2 separate regions of the Homo sapiens genome follow, and region 2 is linked to region 1. Evidence: fine-mapped expression QTL. A gene starts in region 1. The other region holds a variant in brackets. All regions are shown on one strand. Distances are from middle to middle. Region 1 holds the start of ASIC1 (acid sensing ion channel subunit 1). Region 2 overlaps DIP2B (disco interacting protein 2 homolog B).

Region 1 (2,908 bases):
GATCTCGACCTCCCTCCTCCACAATCTTAAGTCCACTCTCCCACTAGGGACCTCCAGACCCCTTCTCTGGTTTCCTAGATGTCCACTACTCCCAACTTCTCATCCAACTTCTTTCCAATGTGCCATCCCCTTCTCGTTACAGGTTTTCTTCTAACTTAAAGCCCGGCACCATGTCCTAGGAATACACCTCTCACCATCCTTCTCCCCGAGCCGCACCAGCCTGCAAGTAGAGCGAAGGAGCCACTAGAGACAGAACTCTGGTCCCCCGCACCCTCCTCCTCATCATCTGACACCATCAGACCTCAACAGCCTCTGTGCTAAGAGCCCCTAATGAGCATCAGCAAATTAACAACTTCCCCTTGATTGCTCCTTCTCTGTTAATTGGATAGGGAGGGCCCCCCTCCCCAAGGCCTCTCAGAGAAGAGGAGGGAGGCAGGGAAGGAGAAAGGTGAGAGCCACAGGAGCAGCCCCCAGGCCTGCGTTCTGTGCTGAGACTTCTGCTCCATCCCTGAGCATAGCTCCCCGTTCCAACCCTTCCTCACCCTGTCCCCTTCACTCCCTTTGCCTCCTTCCTTCTGTCCAAATTCCCTTGACCTCTGGCTATTTTTCCTTCCTTTTCTCTGCTCCTTCTTTGGAGATTTGGCAGTAAGGGGTTGCGACCATGCCCCCCACAAGCCCAAAGCTACAAGGATGGGATCTGAGTGGTCAAGGCTGCGTGTTGGCTCACATATGTGCACGTGTATATGTGTCACATGCAGGTGGGAGCAGGGATAAGAGCAGGTGAGTGCTTGCCATGTGGGTCAGGCCCCCGGGATACGTGGACATCTGTTGCGGGGGGGTGTGGTTGTGAATGGTGTGGTGTGACTCTGGTCGGTATGTGTGTCTGTCTCCATATGGGCTAAGTGCTTGAATTAGTCAAGTGTGACTCGGAGCGTGTGTGTGTATGTGTGTGTGTACGCGCGTGTGTGCCACCAGAGGAAGCAGCAGCAAGAGGCAGGAGCATCGATCCGAAGGAGACAGCGCGGGGAGAGGGACGCTAGGGGCAGACACCCTCCCTCCTGCGCGCACACACGCGCGCGCGCACACACACCACACACAGAGTCATACACACAAGCCATAGGGCCTCGCAGGCAGGGAGACGGCTCCGGGACTGGAGAGAGGCAGCGCCGCCGAAAGCGGCCGCGAGGAGGGGCGAGGCGGCGCGGGGAGCCCTGGGTCCCGCTCCCGGATCCGGGGCCCCGCGCGCACACCAGCCCAGAGACAGCCTCGCAGACACTCGTAGGCGCGCACGCGCACCCTCTCCCCTCCCCCTCCCCTCCCGCCGCCTCCCGGCCGGACGATGGATCCCTGCAGATCCCAGGGCTGAGAGCACCGCGCACCGCGCCGAGCCCGGGCAGACCGAGCCGAGGCGAGCGAGCCAGCGAGCCAGCGCGCGCGGGCGGGCGGACAGATCGGAGCCGAGCGGGGCCGGGCGGGGCGCTCCCTGCAGGGCTCTGCGCGGCGTGCCGCGGCGGCCGCGGGCTCCGGCCCCGGGCCATGAGCCCCTCCGCGACTCGGCGCTGAGCCCGCCACCGGTCCAGCGCCCCAGGACCCGCCGCCGGCTGCCGGCTTGCCGAAGCCCCCTCAGGTGGGTTTCCGATACCCCTGCCTTTGGCCGCGAGGCTCCTCGGTACCCCGAAGCCGGGACTCTCCTCCCTCTGGATTTCCCTTGCTGCTGGGGCGGCTCGGTGGCTGGGGAGGGGGGCGGGGGCCGAGCTGGGGATCTGACTGCGACGAGAAGCTGGACTGGGGGGGGCTGCGTCCGGGGCGGGGACAGCTCGCTGTCATAGGGAACCGCGCCCCCCCTCCATACATCCACCTCGGGCAGCCCGCCACCCCCCACTCCCAACATACACACAGCCTGCGCTTATGTGAGAACTGGAGACACCCGCAGGTGAGGACTCAGGCTGGGCCCCTCCCTAGATGTAGCCACCTCCCTGGGGGTTTTCTGGCCCCAGTTTAGCCCTTAGGACCACAGCCCCGTCCAGGGAATACCCGTGACCAGGACAGGAGCTCCTTACCCCGGGGTCAGCCCATCTGGGTGAGTTTTCATCTCCAGGATGGGGTGGATATTCTTGTCCCAGAGTGACCCCACATCTGGAGGGAACTCCTGCGCCTGCCTATGGGTGCATCAGGACTTCCCCCTCAACCTCGGATGACTATATCTGGGGTCTCCCCGGGCCTGGGAAGCTTCTCTGGGGAGCATTCTCTTGGCCTGACCTGACCCCCTGTGCCTCTGTATTTGGAGGAACCCTGGATGTGTCCCTTGGTCAGCCACCTCTGGGCTTGCAAAGCAGGGAAGTCTTCTGCCCGAGGAGTGGTGACCTCTGGAGATGAGGATTCTGGATGGGCACATGTGGAGGGGCTCCATGTGTACTTTCATCCCAGGACAATGATAGACTGTCCCTCCCTCCTCCCCCAGGATCCCCTCAACAAGGATGGAACTGAAGGCCGAGGAGGAGGAGGTGGGTGGCGTCCAGCCGGTGAGCATCCAGGCCTTCGCCAGCAGCTCCACACTGCACGGCCTGGCCCACATCTTCTCCTACGAGCGGCTGTCTCTGAAGCGGGCACTGTGGGCCCTGTGCTTCCTGGGCTCCCTGGCTGTGCTGCTGTGTGTGTGCACGGAGCGTGTGCAGTACTACTTCCACTACCACCATGTCACCAAGCTCGACGAGGTGGCTGCCTCTCAGCTTACCTTCCCTGCTGTCACGCTGTGCAACCTCAACGAGTTCCGCTTTAGCCAAGTCTCCAAGAATGACCTGTATCATGCTGGGGAGCTGCTGGCCCTGCTCAACAACAGGTGGGTGGCTCCCACCCTCCCTCAGCCCTGCTCCTGGAGTTGCTTGAGTTCCAGTCAGGATGTCTGCCT
Region 2 (2,908 bases), 610 kb after region 1:
TAACTGAATTGAAACAATACACCTAATTGCATAATTGATCCAATATAGAAACATAATGAAACCCATTTTCCATAAACCTAATCATGAAAATACTGGTTTTACTGTCTTTTTAAAATTGGGTTATTCTGATTTTAAACTTAAACAAATTAAAATACATATAAATGATACAATAAAATGATACAATAAAAGCAGCCCACAAATCCAATGGAGATTGTGGAATCTTGAGATAACTTACCTTGAAAATACTTTATTCTTAAGGTCAAATTCACCTATCCTAGGGGCCCTATCCCAACTTCCTCTCTGTTTTTTTTAACATGTTTGCTAAGACAGGAATATTTGTGTCCCGGGGTACAGTTGAAATGTTAGAATATTTTCTGAAAATTACACAAAATGCTTTCCTTAAAGGGGTACAGATGTGATTACTTCTTTTTTTCTTTAAATTTTCTTTTAATCACCCCCCTTTTGCATGATAGATCTCATTCTTCTTTATGGACCTCATCACTTTATCTCTTTGGGATCTGGTCACTATTTATCTCTCCACCCTCATTTTTTTCATTTTTTTGCCTTACTCTTCAAAGTCTTTGCTCTATGTACAAAGAAGTACTTGAAATCCCTGACTGTGGTTGGTTCCCATCCTGCGAAACCCTTTGATTACTCCCGTTTCTTAGCATCTGTTTTATTCTTTTGAAATTATCTGTGGGCTTCTGTGTCTCCTGTAAGCCTTTTTAGGGCACTTACTGTGTCATAAGCACTCATACACTTCACAACCCCTAGGACTTGACATAGTTCCTGGCACATGTTGTGATTAGTACTTTTTAAAAAGCAAAAACAGTCACAGGCTTCAGACCTTCCTCAATATGAAATAATAAGTTGGAGGTAGTACAGAACAAGAAGCAAGGGTATAGTCATTATATAACTTTCTGGGTTTTTTGTTTTTGTTTTTGAAATGGAGTCTCACTCTGCCTCCCAGGCTGGAGGGCAGTGATGCTATCTCTGCTCACTGCAACCTCCGCCTCCCGGTCTTAAGTGATTCTTGTCTGCCTCAGCTTCCCGAGTAG[C/T]TGGAATTACAGGTGTGCACCACCATGCCTGGCTAATTTTTGTATTTTTAGTAAAGACAGGGTTTCGCGATGTTGGCCAGGCTGGTCTTGAACTCCTGACGTCAAGTGATCCACCTACCTCGGCCTCCCAAAGTACTGGGATTACAGGCCTGAGCCACTGCATCCGGCCCATTATTTTAACTTTCTCTCTTGCTCTGGACCTGCAGAATTTGACTTCTAGATTAGATGAGTCTTTTGTGGTTCAGGTTCCCATTGTGAGGTGCCAGCAGTTTTCCAGCCCCATTGGTTATGTATTTGGCTCTTTGAACCAAAGCAGAACATGAACCTACAGTGTCACCTGAGTTAGACGGAAAGGGTTCTGCAGTACTAACCACAGAATGTTTAATTTTTAAAAACAATGAAATTCAATCCACAAGTTGTAAATCATAACACCCAGAAATCATTTAGAAAGGTTTATCTCACATTAGACCAAATGCCCTCTTTAACTGCGTGCTTCATAAGCTTAGAACCCTGAAATAAATTCCTGACTTCTGTTTTCCCCGGCTTTTGCTTCCCTATATTTGGTTGAGTTTTTTTACCCACCCCCCACCCAGCACGCTTTTCTAATTTAGGCCTATTTTCCTGAAGTCAGAGCCAAGCTGAATACAGACATAAGTGGATTTCTCACAATTCTTCTCCAGCTGAAAATTAAAGAAAGAAATACTGATGCTGTGCCTTCTCCTGTCATGCTTGGAAAGCTTACCTGTGCACCCTGACTGGCTGCCTTTCCTACTAAGGCCATGAATAAGTCCAGGCTAAGGATTGTTTACGCCACTTCATTCCCTAGCACCTAGCTCACTGTTTGGCACGTATGTTTTTTGTTTTTTGTTTTTGTTTTTGAGTTGGAGTCTCGCTCTGTTGCCCAGGCTAGAGTGCAGTGGTGCGATCGTGGCTCACCGAAACCTCTGCCTCCGAGGTTCAAACGATTCTCCTGCTTCAGCCTCCCAAGTAGCTGGGATTACAGGCATGCACCACCATGCCTGTCTAATTTTTTGTATTTTTAGTAGAGATGGGGTTTCACCGTGTTGGCCAGGCTGGTCTTGAACTCCTGACCTCAGGTGATCTGCCTGCCTCAGCCTCCCAAAGTGTTGGGATTACAGGTATGAGCCACCACGCCCGGCCTGGCACATACGTTTTTAGCAAGAATTAAGTTTTTATGTCTCCCTGTCAAGATCATTTCCTTAGAGACTAATAAGTACTTTGTCAAAATCAATGTAGCAACATACCACAAGAAGAGATTCAGGAAGACATATAAGTACTTCAGTATTATTTGAACATAAGTAGATGGACTAGAAAAATTTAGATACTGATTAAGCTTACAACAGAAAAGCAGGGAATAAAGTTTAAATGTTTTGAAAGAGTTTAAAAGAAAACAATTAAAAATTACCTATGGAGTTAGGCTATTTTATTTTTGTAGGCTTTGGTCCATAGACTTTTCCTTGAGATTCTTGAGAAACTTTACATATTAATCTACCTTAAGAATGCGAATGTTTTGCTGGTGTCGAAACTGAATGTGTGATCAATGAGCAAGAACTGAAAAGTCTCTGTTCTAGGTAGGATCGAGAACTTCTTTTTTTCTAATTCCACACAGACACATCTTCGGCCTCTGAGGATGAGGGCTCTCTGAGACGCCAAGCTGCGCTCTCTGCTGCCTTGCAACAGAGCTTACAGAATGCTGAGTCCTGGATCAACCGTTCAATTCAGGGATCGTCCACTTCTTCATCCGCATCTTCTACGCTGTCCCACGGAGAGGTCAAAGGAACCAGTGGGTCTCTAGCTGATGTATTTGCCAATACTCGAATAGGTAGGAG

What was found. PIP is the estimated chance that this variant, and not a neighbour inherited with it, causes the effect.
Region 2: its variant is fine-mapped to the expression of ASIC1 in whole blood (TOPMed, PIP above 0.99).

What each region holds. Positions count from the first base shown.
Region 1 is chr12:50,056,290-50,059,197 of GRCh38, forward strand. It overlaps ASIC1 (acid sensing ion channel subunit 1), which reads left to right and starts at 1,307. Exons shown (of 12, transcript NM_001095.4): 1 at 1,307-1,627; 2 at 2,462-2,839. The coding sequence starts at 2,478. RefSeq lists silencers at 1,110-1,269, 1,340-1,509.
Region 2 is chr12:50,668,498-50,671,405 of GRCh38, forward strand. It overlaps DIP2B (disco interacting protein 2 homolog B), which reads left to right. Exons shown (of 38, transcript NM_173602.3): 5 at 2,689-2,901. Among named protein-coding and RNA genes, the nearest start is that of ATF1, 94 kb to the right of the region's middle. The variant C/T (reference allele first, on the strand shown) is at 1,059.